Linked DNA regions of Homo sapiens. The protein of the gene in region 2 purifies or fractionates together with the protein of the main gene of each other region. This does not show direct contact. Each region holds a gene or a part of one and is shown on either strand. Other genes may lie near its edges.

The links.
Region 1: the proteins of CD99L2 (region 2) and TSPAN33 purify together in Homo sapiens (affinity purification with mass spectrometry; one large-scale study listed by BioGRID and IntAct). This does not show direct contact.

Annotation. Positions count from the first base shown.
Region 1 is NC_000007.14:129,161,707-129,165,206, forward strand, and holds part of TSPAN33 (tetraspanin-33), read left to right. Parts: coding exon 1-30; intron 31-687; coding exon 688-815; intron 816-1,126; coding exon 1,127-1,201; intron 1,202-2,767; coding exon 2,768-2,863; intron 2,864-3,142; exon of another isoform or gene 3,143-3,252; intron 3,253-3,500. UniProt on the Homo sapiens protein: Part of TspanC8 subgroup, composed of 6 members that interact with the transmembrane metalloprotease ADAM10.
Region 2 is NC_000023.11:150,773,169-150,776,668, reverse strand, and holds part of CD99L2 (CD99 antigen-like protein 2 isoform 1 precursor), read left to right. Parts: intron 1-375; coding exon 376-495; intron 496-3,500. UniProt on the Homo sapiens protein: Plays a role in a late step of leukocyte extravasation helping cells to overcome the endothelial basement membrane. Acts at the same site as, but independently of, PECAM1.

The DNA of each region.
Region 1 (3,500 bases), on a different chromosome or scaffold from region 2:
GTGTCTACGCTCGGCTAATGAAGCATGCAGGTGAGCTGTAGCTCTCCCTCCCTGCCCCCACCTTGTGCCATGCCCCTTTCCCCTCTGCCTCCTTCAGCCTGGCCCTCACACATAAGCTATGGGGCTAAAGGAGGCAGCCTCCCTGGAGCCAAATCTTCATGGTCTACGTAGGTGTCAGACCCCCCCAGGCCAGTGCCCCTGGATTTCCCTGAGCCCCTCTGAGTCTTCCAGGATATGCCTACATTTGAGGCTTAGGAAGTGTGTGAGAAAGAAGGTAGGCCCCTGGGAGCAGAGAGTCATCAAGGGCTTTAGCCCCTCCCTAGCTCTGTCCTGGAGAAACCCAACCACCATTCCTATTTCACCACACAAGTCACCAGGAAACAGAATCTGCAAAGCTGGTGAGCCTAATGCCATTCCAATTCTTTTGCGGAGCGAAAGCAGCCCCTCCTTAAGCCCAGGAATAAAGGCTTTTATTTCTTTAGTTCCTCAAATTAAATGCCACAACCCTTCTGGGCCCTTTTTGGTTCTCCCCATGGGACAGGGGTACTGCCTCCCCTTAACCTTCATCCAACCATAATGGAGATTCCCCCACCAGGGGAAGGAGAACAGTTTGGGGCACCCTCCCACCCCATCCAGGGGTTCCTCAGTGGGCACCAGGCTCAGGCTGAGGGCCGGCTCCTTTTCCAGAAGCAGCCCTAGCCTGCCTGGCAGTGGACCCTGCCATCCTGCTGATCGTGGTGGGTGTCCTCATGTTCCTGCTCACCTTCTGTGGCTGCATTGGGTCCCTCCGCGAGAACATCTGCCTCCTGCAGACGGTGAGTGGTCAAGGCCCCACTGGAAAGACCCTGGCCCTCTCCCCATCATGCCTCTTAGCCTCCCACGGCCCTTTGGTTGCCTTGTCCTACCCTACCCCCAAGCCTGTGCTGTCCACCCCTCAGTGCAGAGCTTAGCCCGGGTGACCCAGCACAGGGTGGCCACCCCCAAGACAGTGTCCCAGAGGCAGCTGCCTTTCTCATGTGTGGGGCATCTGGGAGAATTGCCTGGCAGCTCCCAGCATCCCCTTGGCCCTGGAAGGGGTTGCTGCCATGAGTGGTCCTAGACGCCTCTTCTTCCTGCTGCTCCACAGTTCTCCCTCTGCCTCACCGCTGTGTTCCTGCTGCAGCTGGCCGCTGGGATCCTGGGCTTCGTCTTCTCAGACAAGGTAACACTGGGAGCCAGGAGGCCTCCTCAGGTGTGACCCAGAGGGAGGAAGGAAGGTTCCTGCCCATGTTTAGCCTGGTTAATTAACCACAGCTCCTTCCCCTGAGAAACATCAGTCGTTGAAAAGTTCATTAGGGGTGAATGAATAGCCTGTAAACTCATCATATTTGAAGAGAATTTTAAGATCATAAGGTGCTTTCCTCTGACAGTCTGAGAAGCTAACAGGGAAGTAAATTATACAAACACAAAGTTAAAATAACTTAGAAACTTTAATAGCAAATGACAGAATCAAACTCAATAATCAAGTGGACCACTGACAATATGAAGAGCCTCTTATTTCTTTTAAAAATTGTTTATTGAGATAAACAGAAGGAAGGAAGGGGGAAGAGAACAAGATTTTGTTTTGAGGTTTATTTTTCTTTCTTTCTTTTTTTTTTTTTTTTTGGTTGTTGTTTTTGTTTTTTAAGAGATGGGAGTCTCACTAGGTTGCCAGGCTGGCCTTGAACTCCTGGGCTCAAGTGATCCTCCTGCCTCCATCTCCTAAGTCTCTGGGATTACAGTCATGTGCCACCATGATTGGCTTAATAAAAGGTTTTGAACAATGCTTGCCATATCTGGAAATGGTCTGCCATTCAGTGACAGTCCTTTTTAAGAACCAGAATGTCTTTCCCAAAAGGCAAATGATTGCCAAGGGCAGACTACAAAACTAAGGAAAGAAAATTTGAGAAAAGTAGTGGGGCAGGAAGGAAGAGACTATGGTAGAAAATTATGAAATTGGGCCAGGCGCGGTAGCTCATGCCTGTAATCCCAGCATTTTGGGAGGCTGAGGCGGGCAGATCACTTGAGGCCAGGAGTTCGAGTCCAGCCTGGCCAACATGGCGAATCCCTGTCTCTACTAAAAAACACCAAAAAAATTAGCCAGGTGTCAGGAGGCTGAGGCACAAGAATTGCTTGAACCCAGGAGAAGGAGGTTGCAGTAAGCTGAGATCGCGCCACTACACTCCAGCCTGGGCGACAGTAAAACTGTATCAAGAAAAGAAAAGAGAAAGGGAGAGGGGAGGGGAGGGGAGAAAATTATGAAATCGAGAGCCACTGAGTTAATTCCGAATTTCGTAGTCCTCCTGGCTTACAGTAAGATCCTGAAATGATGTATTAAATAGCTCTGTTTTGAGTCTAAAGAGATGCAATTATCTAGTGTCCACTAGAGGGCAGTGCCTCAGCTCAGTAAGCTACTTTCTGCTAAAAAAATTAAAAATTAGTTTGTTTTTATCAGTCAACAAGTATTTTGTGATAATAGCATTCAGAGATAGATACACATTGGTATATCTTGAAATGTGTCTCTGAAAAGCTTCAACAGCAGGTCCAGCATTTCTCCTGCCCACTGGTACCTGAGGGCCCTGGGATGGGCTTTGGAACTGAACCGGCTATCTTCCACCATTAGGACTCGGTTCTGATTTCAAGGCAGACTCAGTTAAGAAGGATGATCCCTGTCTACTGTTATTTTTGCTGGAAGGAGCAAGTTAGGGATTAGTCCTGTGTTCTGATTCCTTGCCCATGTCTCCGGCAGGCTCGAGGGAAAGTGAGTGAGATCATCAACAATGCCATTGTGCACTACCGAGATGACTTGGATCTGCAGAACCTCATTGATTTTGGCCAGAAAAAGGTATGGGTCAGCCAGTGGTCTGGGGGACTGTGGGTAAAAGTGAATGTCATCCCAAGAGATGCCTCACCCTCTATGCCTGTGGGGCTCTTCATTACCTGCCAGGTAATGGCTTCTGGGAAGGGGTTTGGCAAAAAAGCACACGTAGCAGAGTGCTTTAAATGTACTTTTAAAGACACAGAACAGTATATATAGTAATCTACTGTGTTATAAATGGTTACCTACAGGGGGTGAGGAACTGGGCAGATTCTTGAATATTACCTCTTCAAAAGTGACATTTTAGGCTGGTCCAAAGGGAGTGAGTTATCTCATTTGATTGTTCACAGTCAGCTACAGATCCAACTCCTTGTTCTACTCTTTCCCCCCTTCTCACTGCTGCACTTGACTAGACTAAAAAAAAGAAAATTACATTTAAAAAATTGTGATAAAATTTACATAATGTAAAATTTACCATTTTTAAGCATACAGATCCGTGGCATGAAGTACCTTCAATTGTTGTGCAACCATCACCACCATCTCCAGAACGCTCATCTGCCCCAGATGAAACTCTGTATCCATCAAACACTAACTCCCCATTTCCTCTCTTGAATCTCTGTATCCATCAAACACTAACTCCCCATTTTCCTCTCTTGAAACTCTG
Region 2 (3,500 bases):
AGATAATCATGAGGCCAATAGAGGGGTGTAGCCATTTGAAGGAAGGAAGCATGAAGATTGGGGTGCCGGGGGAAGTAGCCCAGTGGGAAGCCTGCAGGGCGTCAGTCACAGAGAGCTCTGCACCATTTCCGTGTCTCCCTTTCAAGCTCCTCAAAAGTGAAGCCCTTACAGAAAACGAGAAGTCCTAGGCAAATCCAAGGGGCACCATGTCTTTGTAATGCCGTAGATCTGTGTGGCATGGCCCTCTCCTGCTGGCTTGGGGGTTGGGGGCGTCTAGTAGTTTGGTGCTAGAGGAGAAGCAGGCTCCCAGGCTGCTCCCTGCGGTGCTTTGTCTCTGACCTCACCTGTCCTCATTTCTCCCCCTTCTTCACGCAGGCATGGTGGCAGAGCCTGGCACCATTGCCGGGGTGGCCAGCGCCCTGGCCATGGCCCTCATCGGTGCCGTCTCCAGCTACATCTCCTACCAGCAGAAGAAGTTCTGCTTCAGCATTCAGCGTAAGTGCAGCCACCCACTCGTGGCTAGGAACCAGCTGGCAAGGTCTTTGGAGGGAAAGGGGCCAGGACAGATCCAGATCCCTCCACAGCCTGCCTGAGACCCACTCCCAAGCAGACTTCCTGGGACGGGGGTGGAGGCAACAGTTTTGGAAATCCCTGGGGACAGATCTGGGCTGAATTAAAGTGTAAACCACCCTGCAAGAGCGCGTGGGGCTGGCCCTGATGACCTTCACCTTCCAGGGCCCCAGCTCCCAGGGGTATTTCTGTGGGGACAGAGCTCAGTGACCACTGTGATGTTTCCTTCACGTAGAATGGGAGGGACCCTGGACTGCACCCATAGCTTCAGACCTCAGCCAAGCGGATGAGGGCCTTTGGAGGCCCTGCGTCACCAGCTCCCTCCCATGCTGCTGGCTCCCTCAGGAGCAGAGGGCAGCAGTTCCTGGGGGTTTGCAAAGCACGGCCCTTATTGCTCTGGCAGTGCCCCCGTCACATCGTGAGAAGTCACTGCCTGGTGCTCTTCCCCCTACGAGCCACAAACTGTATGGAATCATTAATTGCTCCAAAGAAGTAGGAATGTGAGAGAAAGAATGGTGTGGTTCCCCCCCGACCCACCACCCTTTACTAGGTTTTTAAAAGACAGTTTTCATCTCATGCTGTAGCTGTGAGTCTGGAAGTCATAGATTAATGGAATAGTTACAAATGGAATCCTGTCTTCACCCATCGGCGCCCCACATCAGGCAGCCCTGTGGGGATGCTGTTGAGGGAACAAGACCTTGCTTGTCCCTTTTGTAAGCACAGATGGATGCTCTGTCACTGTTTGCTGAGTGGAGCGTGTCTCCAGTTCAAGGCTGGCAATTTTCAGTTCAAGTGACAGAATGTGACTCAGCTGTAGCTTGTCTCTTTCCACTCCTTCCCCGGCCCCTTTGATGCAATGGGAAGCTTAGAAGCAACCCACGTGGGTCTTTCCCTACCCTTGCTGTGGCCCTCCGCCCTTAAGTCTAGCCTGAGCTGAGCTTCCCAGAAAACTAACCTGGGTCCCAAGATGCTTTACGGAAGTCTCCAACTGTTTATTAATCTGACCATCATATTTGTTTGCTTCACTCTTGTAGAACATTCTTGACCAGGGCGACACACACAGCAGGCACAGCAGTACTGCAGGAGCACGTTGACATGTCAGTGCGCAGCCTGCGAAACTGTTCATGGCCACCCTGCTTGAGATCCCACGGACCCACCGTGGATCCGGAAGCTTGACTGTAGAGTGGCATGAGCAGGGAATGGGTCAGACAGAGTCCAGGGCTGGGGAATGGATTGTTTTTAGAGTTACCCTTTTCCCTCAAATCAAAAATCAAGGAATCCTCTAACTGGTGAAAAAGATGGGAATCCAACCTTCTAATTGCCTGGACACTGATATTTAGAAGGAGACATTGGGCGAGAGGGTCGAGTTGCATTTAGCGCGGCGGGGGAAGTTTTGCATCAGCCTCCTGGGCTGTGCCTGGAACAAGGAGCCCAGGGCAACCAGGTACATAGTCACAGCCCTTCATCTCTGACCGTGTTCTTATTGCATTTGGCAAAAAAGTAGAAGCCGCCTAATACAGGGGTTTTCTGTTCAAGAGGCCCCAAGGCTGTCCTCCGTGGGCTCTCCCTCCGGCAGGTGGATTGGAACGAGATGGGGATTCTGGGACACAGCTCAATCCACATGGCCTTCCCCACGGCCAGGGATCCTCATTTGAAACTGCTCTTTGGGCTGGGAGCTCTCCATACTCGTCTCCCCTCCCTGTTTTAGAGGAGAGGGAGCAAGGACCTGGCCAGGGACACTTTGGGAGAACAACTCAGAGCATCCCGCTTGCCAGGAGAGGAGTGAAGATTTTGGATAAGCATCCAGGTTCTCAAGGTGGCCTCTTGGGAAAAGATAAAAGCCCAGATTTAGATTAAACCAGATCTGTAGGACAAAGTTAGAACTGACTGACAGAAAAATCTTTCCTGTATGACTGACTAAACTAGTTGGTAACTAAAATGTCATTGAACGAATATTTATTATTAAAAAAAATCCTACACCCAAAGATGTCCTCAAAATGGAGGCCACAGTGGCAGGGGAGGTCCTGGTGGCTGGCTAGAGGGCTTCTCCTGTGTGGACCTTTGCTGGAGAGCTTATTTGGCTGGAAGCACCATGTCAGATACATTTTGGCCTGATTTTCTGATGATTTCCCCTTCTAGGTGGCTGGGGTGGCAAGGAGGTTTGGTTCGTAGCAACAAAGTAGTTGTGAGCTCTTTGAACGAAAAGGCTAATGCCCTGGGAGCCAAAAGGTCTCACTGGTGAGGTTTGCCAAAGCTGTATGAGTTCACTGGGGCTGCCAGAACAGAGAGTCACAAACTGAGTGGCTCAAAACAACAGAAGTTGATTCTCTCCCAGTTCCAGGGGACTCCGGATGTTCCTTGGCTTGTGGCCATATCATTCCAATCTCGGTTTATATCCTAAATCCAGAATGACCTCATCTTAACATCCTTAACTTAATTACACCTGCAAAGACCCTGTTCCTGAATAAGGCCATGTTCACAGGTTCCAGGGATGAGGACACACGCAGATCTTTTTTGGCATGGGGCGGGGCATTCTTCACTATAGCATCGTCAGCCTAATGGTGAGATGCGACAGTCCACAGTTTTCACATCCATGCCCATTACAAAACTGGGTGAGATGGCCAGGCCAAAGGATGGCTTTGAGACTTTAAAAAGCATGCTGGGTAAAAGAAACTATTTAAACTACAGGTCTGTAGTTCCTCGTAAGAGCAGTGTCCCGGGCATCGTGCGCTTGCCAGCTACCTGCCATTGCCTCTCTTCCGGGCTCTGCACATGGGTGAAAAGCCAGCCCTGTAACTCGGCCTGGCAAGGGCAGGGCCATGGATGGGGAGAGTTCTTGGGCTGAGCAGACAGGGTGGCCGGCTTGGGCCCTCTCCTGCTGGGCCCTCAGTTTCCCCATCAAGGGTATCTCGACTTCCTTCTGCTCTGGA